Linked DNA regions of Homo sapiens. The gene in region 1 interacts genetically with each later gene. Each region holds a gene or a part of one and is shown on either strand. Other genes may lie near its edges.

Region 1 (5,052 bases):
TCACAGCAAAATTGCTCTTTCAGAAGGACAAAAACCTGCCACCATGCCCAGTCCCCATGTTTAGGAAGCTGCCAGCACAGGCAAGGGAGCATCCTGACGTGCTTGGAAGGGACTGTCATGCTGGAGGTGCTGCCGCCCTTGCCCTCTGTTGCTGGATATCAGGCAGGCCGAGGTTCCACCCAACTCCCCTCCTGTCAGTCATCTGGCCCACAGGCCTCCGTGTGCAGAGCCTGATCCAGGCCAGAGGATGGAACTGCCTGCTCCTGTACCACGGCCACGTGGAGCCTCCAAACCCCCGAGACGGGACTAGCTCACACTGTGATATGCCCCAATTGTCAAACACCCCCAGGGCCCAGGGCCCGCAGGTGAAATCAGATCACGGTGCCGTTCCTGCTGGCTGCGTGCTGTGAGGTGCAATCCCTGGCTAGGCAGGTAAGGGACGCAAGGCTCCCAGAAAGGACACCCCACGTATGGCCCATGTCCCTTCTTCTCTACTGGAGGGTGCCAAGACCTCACCCTGGGGGCCCCGTCTAAAATTCTGGATGCGCTGAGGTCAGGAGTTCAAGACCAGCCTGACCAACATAGTGAAACCTGTTCTCTACTAAAAATACAAAATTAGCCGGGCGTGGTGGCAGACGCCTGTAATCCCAGCTACTCAGGACACTGAGGCAGGAGAGTCGCTTGAACCCAGGAGGCAGAGGTTGTAGTGAGCCAAGATCGGGGCACTGCACTCAATCCTGGGCAACAAAAGTGAAACTCCATCTCAAAAAAATAAATAAAATAGTCCGGGCGCGGTGGCTCACGCTTCTAATCCCAGCGCTTTGGGAGGCCGAGGCGGGCGAATCACGAGGTCAGGAGATCGAGACCATCCTGCCTAACACGGTGAAACCCTGTCTCTACTAAAAATACAAAAAAATTAGCCAGGCGTGGTGGTGGGCGCCTGTAGTCCCAGCTACTCAGGAGACTGAGGTAGGAGAATGGCGTGAACCCAGGAGGTGGAGCTTGCAGTAAGCCGAGATGGCGCCACTGCACTCTAGCCTGGGCGACAGAGTGAGACTCCATCTCAAAAAAAAACCATAAATAAATAAATAAAATAAAATAAAACTCTGGGTGTGTCGGCTGATCTTACACTCAGCTTTTCAATTACAAGTGACGTGTACAGGAAAATTAGTCAAGAATTAGAGCCTGTGAGGCTGGGCGCAGTCACTCACGCCTGTAATCCCAGCACTTTGGGAGGCCGAGGCAGGCGGATCACAAGGTCAGGAGATCGAGACCACCCTGGCTAACATGGTGAAACCCCGTCTCTACTAAAAATACAAAAAAATTAGCCGGGCGTGGTGGCGAGCGCCTGTAGTCCCAGCTACTCGGGAGACTGAGGCAGGAGAATGGTGTGAACCCAGGAGGCGGAGCTTGCAGTGAGCCGCGATTGCGCCACTGCACTCCAGCCTGGGCTACAGAGTGAAACTCCATCTCAAAAAAAAAAAAAAAACAATTAGAGCTTGTACACCCTTAAACAAATGCCCCCCTAATCCTGAAGTATGAGGCTAAGACACGAAGTCCAGGCTCTGTCTCCTGAGGAGCCTGTGAGAACTGGTTGGGCCCAGACATTCCTGCTATGAGCTCTCCAACCCGCAGGAGCCCGGGCTGCCCTTTAGCCTAACCAGCGAGGCCACAGGCGATGGAGCCCATCTGCAGGTGAAGGGCCTGGTGGCAGGTGACCTGCTGACCAGCCGGCACCCCACCTGTGGCTGAGGCCAGACGTGTAACACAAGACTCCCCATCACCCCGCCCACCACCTGGCATCTCCGGAGCAGGCGGGAGGCCCTCCCACAAGGCCCCCTAGACTTACTGAACTGTGGCGGGGCACCGTAGCCCTGAGGGAAGCCCTGGGGAGGGGGAAAGCCTCCAGGAGGGGTGGACACGATGTAGGAGGTGAACGGTGGGGGTGGCGGGGGGGCTCCTCTTCCTGCAGGGGGCGGTCCATAGCCACCTGAAACACACAGTACGGGGGTGATGGACAGAGAGCGCTGGACAACACAGACTGGCCACAGTTAGACCCAGGCCTGCCAGGGGCCCTAGCAGGCCCCTCACCCTCTCTTCCTCTCCAGCACTCAGGACACGGGAACCAGGCTTTGCCGGCTGCCCCAGGACACCTGGCGAGTCAGCCTGCCATGTGGCTTCTGTCCCCGCCTTTGCTCTATAAACAAGGACTTACCAATCGCCTGTCCTGCCGGCACCCACATTCCTAGATAAGAGAACAGAAGAGGAGGTTGGCGCCGTGTCCACCAGCTGTCCGACGCAGAGAAGGAGCCGCAGAGCATGGACGTCAAGGGCTGGGACCAACCCCGGAGCCTCCTGTGCTTAGAGCCTGTTCGTCCTGAGGGCAGAGCCCTCTGAACCCTGAGCAGAGAAGCACTCCCCACCCCTTGTAGAACAGGCCTTAAAGCCACTCTCCTCTGTGCCCTGCCAGGTGGCGGGCACTGTGTCTGCTGACTGGGGCACGGGTGACCTCCCGGCTCCACCTGAGGACCCCAGAGAAACCTGAGACTTCTAAGCCTCGAGAGGGCAGGGACAGTCCCCACAGCACCTCCGAGTTTCCAACAAGGGAGGCTCCAGAGAAAAAGGTTTTAGACGAGGTGCAGGGAAGCCACAGTCTCGGGACCCGGACGACGTACATCTGGAACCCTGACCCACAACTCGGGTCGGGCTGCAGCCAAGCCCAGGGGTTCCGTGGCTGCTGGAAGCTCCAAGGACGGCCCACAACGTGGGCCTAACTACAGAGGGCCCACGGCACTGCAGAGGGAACGGCAGGTGGCAAGGATCCAAAGCCTGCCGGCTCCTCAAGCCCCCCAGGGGCAGCACCCCGATTCTGAGCTCAGCTTGGCAATGCCAGCCCTCTCAGGGTTTCGTGCTCAGACCTGCCGTGGCACACGGTCGCGAGGTGCAGACGCTCACTGCAGCTCTTCCCGGTGACAATGAGTCCCAGGCCCCGGACGGGCACCTAAGCCGTGGCCACCCCGCTACTGAGGAGGCTGCGGGTGCTGCCCGGGAGCTGGCTGTCAGCCGGCACCTCGCGGGGGCTCAAGGACACTGTGAACCGCGGCTCTGTGCATGCACAGCAGAGGTGGGGAGGCCGCAGCGACGGCACAGCCCAGGGCGCGCGGGCCAAGTCCGAGAAGGGGGACATTCCCGTGGGCACCTCTGCATCAGCCTTACCTTGCGGGCCATATCCTTGCTGCCACGTGGGCGGGGGCTGGCCTGCCCAGCCATTGGCAGCGTTGGGCACAACCCGGCTCCCCCACTGGCTGGCACCTGGCTGTCCCGGCGCTTGGCTCTTGCTGTCCCGAGGCTCAGCTCGTTTAACTTCCACCTAAACAAACCGAGCTCTGGTTTAGGGCGAGGCTGCGGGTCCCAGCACCCCCTTCCCTTTAGACACACCCTCGGGTAACTTATGACTACACTTAGCATCTTACAACTTAAGACTAAATACTTAACTATAAACCTTATTTAGGCCAGTAGCATTTTTTTCTTAAAAAATTCTTTTGTGTTGAATTTTTTTGTTTAAAAAATGTTTCTCAGGTACAACAGATGCAACCGTAAGACACACAGAGCCCGCCCACTGCGGGGCAGCAGGACCGAGCCCAGAGCCCTCGGGGGTTTCGTGCGTGACGAAGGGTCTTTCACTCAAGTAAAATGGCAGCGTCCTCCTTCCTCTTGAAAACATGGGGACAAAAAGGGACCAGGATCTTCCCAGCAATCGGCATCCTCATCGCCCTCTGGACTGCTTGGAGCCCGCCCACCTGTGCTTTTAACTCATACCTGAGAAACACGGCTGGTGTTTTACTTAGATTTTTAAATTTAAAATGTCTAATGGAAGATAAAGACTTACCTTCCCCAGGCTAACGCTTAAAGAATCTCAATTAACTCAAAACTAATGTCAGAGGGAATGGATGTGATAAGAGAATCTTACATTACATCTAACAAAAAAAGTAACAAACATGCAATAAAATGGACATTTGGATCAGTAAGCAATCTTCATACTGTGTTCGCTCAGCAGCCCGGGGCCCTTCCTCTCTAGACGTGTCAGGAGCCACAGTCTTCTCAGGAGGAGGGTGCGGGGCCGGGGACAATGGATGGAGCAGGCCTGACCTACTTATTCTAGGCGCAGTGGCTGACCTTCCTTTAATGCCTGCTTGAAAATATGGGTGGACTAACAACAGAAAGATCCCCCCAATTCCGGGGCTGCCTCAGCATTTGAGAATCCTGAATTTGTCTCACTTTTCTGATAAATCGTAATGAGAATAAAGAGACAATGGATCCACCTGGAGTCAGCCTTGGGGTCTCAGTCTGGAGAGCTGCACATCCTGAGTTCAGAATCCCTCAGTTCTGCCTGTTAGAGAACAGACAGCAGCAGCCACAGAGGCACAAAGCCCCCACCTGCCCAATGCCCCAAGGACCGGCCTATGATGGGAACAGGATCCGTTAGCTCAAGGCAATGTGACAGCAGGACCAAGGGACCCATTTCAAAGAACTCAAATGAGCGAGTCTTCACACACCCTCCTCAGGGGACTGCGGTTCCTGCTTACAAAGCAGAGCGGTCCTTGTACTTTAAAAAAACAAAAACAAAAAAAAATTCTTTCACCCTTTCCTACCTGAATGCAGCAATGCAGTCGCCTGGCATGGAGGGTTAACTACCACGCGGTACCAAACACTCCACAAACGGAAAACCCCCATGAGGGGCCGGCGGCGACGCCAAGTGCCGCTCCAGCCAACCAGTGAAGGCCGGCGCCGGGCAAGCTGGACTCCAACGACTGTCTGGCTTGGAAGGCGAGACCCACACTGAGGTCGCCCAGCTCAGGAGCTCGCGCAGAACAGTCATGGCTGGGGGGACCCAGGGGCTGCCCAGGGACGGCAGCAGGTGTGTGCACTGTACAGAGCTCTTTCTGCCCCGTATATCAAGACCACGCTTTCCCCAAATTGTCAGTGTCGTAGTCCCTTAAAACACTGGGCGCAGACTCCTTGAAGCCCTGCTTGTACTGTCGCGCACCCATG
Region 2 (4,115 bases), on another chromosome or scaffold:
GGCTCACTGCAGCCTTGACCTCCTGGGCTCAAGTGATCCTTCCATCTCAGCCTCCTGAGTAGCTGGGACTACAGGTGCATGCTACCACTCCCAGCTAATTTGTTTTTTCTTTTGAGATGGAGTTTCACTCTGTCACCCAGGCTGGTGCAGTGGCACAATCTTGGCTCACCACACCTCCGCCTCCCAGGTTCAAGTGATTCTCCTGCCTCAGCCTCCCAAGTAGCTTGGATTACAGGCACGCACCACCACATCTGGCTAATTTTTATATTTTTAGTAGAGCCGGGGTTTCACCATGTTGGTCAGGCTGGTCTCAAACTCCTGACCTCGTGATCCGCCAGCCTCAGCCTCCCAAAGTGCTGGGATTACAGGCATGAGCCACTGCGCCCGGCCCTGATTTATTTTTTCTTTTTGAAACAGTCTTGCTCTGTTGCCTAGGCTGGAGTGCAGTGGCACAATCTCCGTTCACTGCAACTTCTGCCTCCCAGGTTCAAACTATTCTCCTGCCTCAGCCTCCCAAGTAGCTAGGATTACAGGCATGTGCCACCATGTCTGGCTAATTTTGTATTTTTAGTAGAGACAGGGTTTCTCCATGTTGGTCAGGCTGGTCTTGAACTCCCGACCTCAGGTGATCTGCCTGCATCCACCTCCCAAAGTGCAGGGATTACAGGCATGAGCCACTGCGCCTGGCCATATTCCACTTTAACACACACAGTCCTAGTGCAGAAGAAGAAGGTGAATGTGTGTATGTATATGTAATTTTTAAAATAAGCTCCCAAGTTATCCAAATCAACATAACACTCCAGTCACTGGAACATTTTCCCACAATTGTTAATAAAACAAAAATCGGCTAACACAATATTCTGAGAATATACACTAGCTTTTCCTGGTCTTTTCTATTTGCTTTCTCTTCAAGCCTCTTCCTGACTGATTACCAAGGACCAGTGTCTGCAGGTACCCAAGGTCCTGCCCTATTAAACTTTAAGATGAATTCTGGCACAGCACACCTTTGGCTCGTGGCTCAGAGGCTGACCAGAGAGCTCTGGCAGCGAGAGCTTTGGCAGCAAGTCCTTAGGCAAGCCAGGCTACCTACAGAGCATAGATTCACTCCTTGTTCAAGTGACAGCATCTCCAATAAGTCTATGTGAACAAGATTAGGACAAAAAGCAATAAAGTAGCATTTTTTTTTAAAGCATTATCACTTTTATCCAGTGGTCACAACAGGGAATGAGTCCTCTCACTGTCTAGAAAAAGGAGGAAGTTAAAACCAGAAGAGTTTTATGTCTTAAATTCCCCTGCTGACAGTCTTGACAGGGACTCGTGGAACACTGCGACATTCTAAATATCTATCAAAAGTACTGATGTGTACCAAAACACATTGTGCCTAAAACACATGAGTATGTGTTCAATACAGACCGGCTAAATTAATGAGCAAATGAATGATAATCCTGAAGGGCTACCGCAAATACCAAGATGAAAAATTAAATACCGGAGTCGAAATAATTATGCATCAAACATATAAAGTAATTGTATTAAAAACCTCAGAGGAATCAACACAGGCTGGTGAGGTGAGTACCCATCCCAGTGTTTCAAGTACAAGGTGGTCATGCCACCCAGACTCACTACTAGGATTCTCCAAAAAGCATCAGATATACCTACAGTCTCTCCTCAGAACCTCAAAAATACTCTCTGGATGCCAAATCTTAGAGCACAAGTAGTCAGTTAAATACTGGGGCAAACTAAATCCCAATCACACTGCCATCTTTATCAAAACCAACCCTGAAACATGCACTTAAGTGGAACAGAAGCCCAGGAACTGCTACCCAGCTTTTCCCAATAAAAGAGGGGAAATAACACCTGGGCCTAAAGACCAAACATATTGTCAAAACACAGGAGAAATGCCAAATTCTTATATCTGACTTACGTAGGTAAGCCAGGTAGAACAAGAGAAAATGGATTTAAACTAGAAAATTACACTACTTGGAGTCTGACTATAAGAATCTGCTAGACTACAAAATGAGTTGGGTTGAAAGAGATAAGGGAATTTTCCCCCCAGAGTCTTTAAAAGGCAGAGAATGAAATAATGACCTTTTCAGCTACCTTTCTGACCTCTTATTCCTGAATCCTTTCTGGAAAATACAAAAGTAAATTTACTAAACAGCCATATAATTCTCTTTGGTTATATTTCAATTACAGGTACAGTAATGATAATAATTAAATAACAGCTAACATCTCTATATGGCTTATTCCACACCGGGTGGCGTTCCTAAGTCCATTACATATATTAACTCATTTAATCTTTGAACAAGGTAGATGTTATTATTTATTGCCCTAATTTTACAGATGATGAAACTGAGACACAGAGGATAACTTGCCCAAGGCAATACAAAACTGGGAAGTGGCAGGACTTAGATAACCCAGGCTAATCACAGAGCTTTTTTCATGGGTGAACTTGGATGGAAGGGCAGAACCAATGTTTAGGAGCATGCAGACACAAAAAGATCACATTCTCGCCTCTGGCCAACAGATGCCAAGGCAGCTCCAGGGCCATGTTCTGAGAGTGCCATCTGGACCACTCAACCACTAGTGTGTCTGTCACCTATCTCCAAGTCTGTTAACTTCAGGGGTGGAGCCCAGGAATGTGCAGCTCCCTCAGGATTCTCACACACTAAAATTTAGAGAACCTGTTGCTCCAACACCAATCTTGCTGTATCCCTCAAGAGACCACAACAAAAGAAGGTAGAAACATAATAACCAATAATGAGGCTGTTTTTTGAGACAGGGTCTGGCTCTGTCGCCCAGGCTGGAGTGCAGTGGCGTGATCTTGGCTCACTATAACCTCTGCCTCCTGAGCTTAAAGCATCCTCCTACCTCAGCTTCCCAAGTAGCTGGTACTACAGGCAGATGCCACCATACCTGGCTAATTTTTTAATGTTTTTGTAGAGTCAGGGTTTCTCCATGTTGCCCAGGTTGGTATCAAACTCCCGGGCTCAAGCGATTCTCCCATCTCAGCCTCCCAAAGTGCTAAGATTACAGGTGTGAGCCACCACGCCCAGCCCTATAATGGGGCTTTTTATTCCAAGTGTAGTTGATAGAATCTGTTTCTTTACTCTGCAACAATTCCCAAATTTATTCACATGAAGGAACACCTGGAAGTCAATTTCTTAAACTGTTGATAGACTTAATTCTATGGATCAACTAGGTACAATTTTACGTTAGGAAAACATGATTATGCTAATGCAAATTTTTAAAAATTACAACCATGTTTTCTTAGTGAATGTCTCCACACTAAAAAGATGACCACTTCTAGCCTTTTTCATCAGTGTTAATTTGCTGTGTCCATTTTACTTTATCCTCTGCTGGTGACCACTATCCATGGCAAGCAGGAACCAATGGTCTAAAAATTCCAACCAATAATTCTAAAGTTCCTCCAAATTATGAAGTCGACCACCTCTTTGGCAGGGTTTCTCACAAACTTAGCCTGAGAATCACTTTAAGGCAGGATTTGCTGCTCACCAACCACTACACATACTTCTCTCTCGCAGGGTTTCTTAACTTGGGGTCTGTGAACTTGAATTGGAAAATTATCCCCATATTTCCATTAACCTCTAGCTAAATTTTTTTGTTTCCTTCAATTACAAATGGGGTCAGGTGCTCACAGTGGTATGACTGTCTGTGACTTTGCCAGCAAGAGAATTTTTTTTTCCCACCACAGCACAGTTGTTAAGCATCTTGAAATGCTGTTTACCCTTGTCACCATTTCAAAATTACATTAATAATTACAGTGGATGGTGTAAATCAATAAGTTAATTTATTAAAAGTACATATGACTACATCACCACTTTAAAAAACATGTTGTTTATATCTGTAGTGCAACATAAGTGGTTTCTTTTGTAATTCTATGTGTTTTATGCATTTGAAAACATAACTATGAGAAGGGGTCTATTGGTATCAGATGACCATGGCACACAGAATTTAAGAACCCTGATCTACTGATAGGTGGAGGCACAAAAATGATTTTAAGACAGCGCATTGCCTACATCATGTGAGTTAAGATATAGTTAACTGCTAATGCTGTTGATAGTGGGGTTATTAGTTTGCATTTCACTGCTAAGCCA

The links. A genetic interaction does not mean that the proteins touch.
Region 2: changes in DAZAP1 (region 1) and DCAF7 together harm fitness more than expected from each alone (negative genetic interaction), as found in Homo sapiens cells (one large-scale study listed by BioGRID).

What each region holds. Positions count from the first base shown.
Region 1 is NC_000019.10:1,427,160-1,432,211, reverse strand, and holds part of DAZAP1 (DAZ-associated protein 1), read right to left. Parts: intron 3,371-5,052; coding exon 3,217-3,370; intron 2,246-3,216; coding exon 2,216-2,245; intron 1,991-2,215; coding exon 1,850-1,990; intron 1-1,849. UniProt on the Homo sapiens protein: RNA-binding protein, which may be required during spermatogenesis.
Region 2 is NC_000017.11:63,552,862-63,556,976, reverse strand, and holds part of DCAF7 (DDB1- and CUL4-associated factor 7), read right to left. Parts: intron 1-4,115. UniProt on the Homo sapiens protein: Involved in craniofacial development. Acts upstream of the EDN1 pathway and is required for formation of the upper jaw equivalent, the palatoquadrate. The activity required for EDN1 pathway function differs between the first and second arches.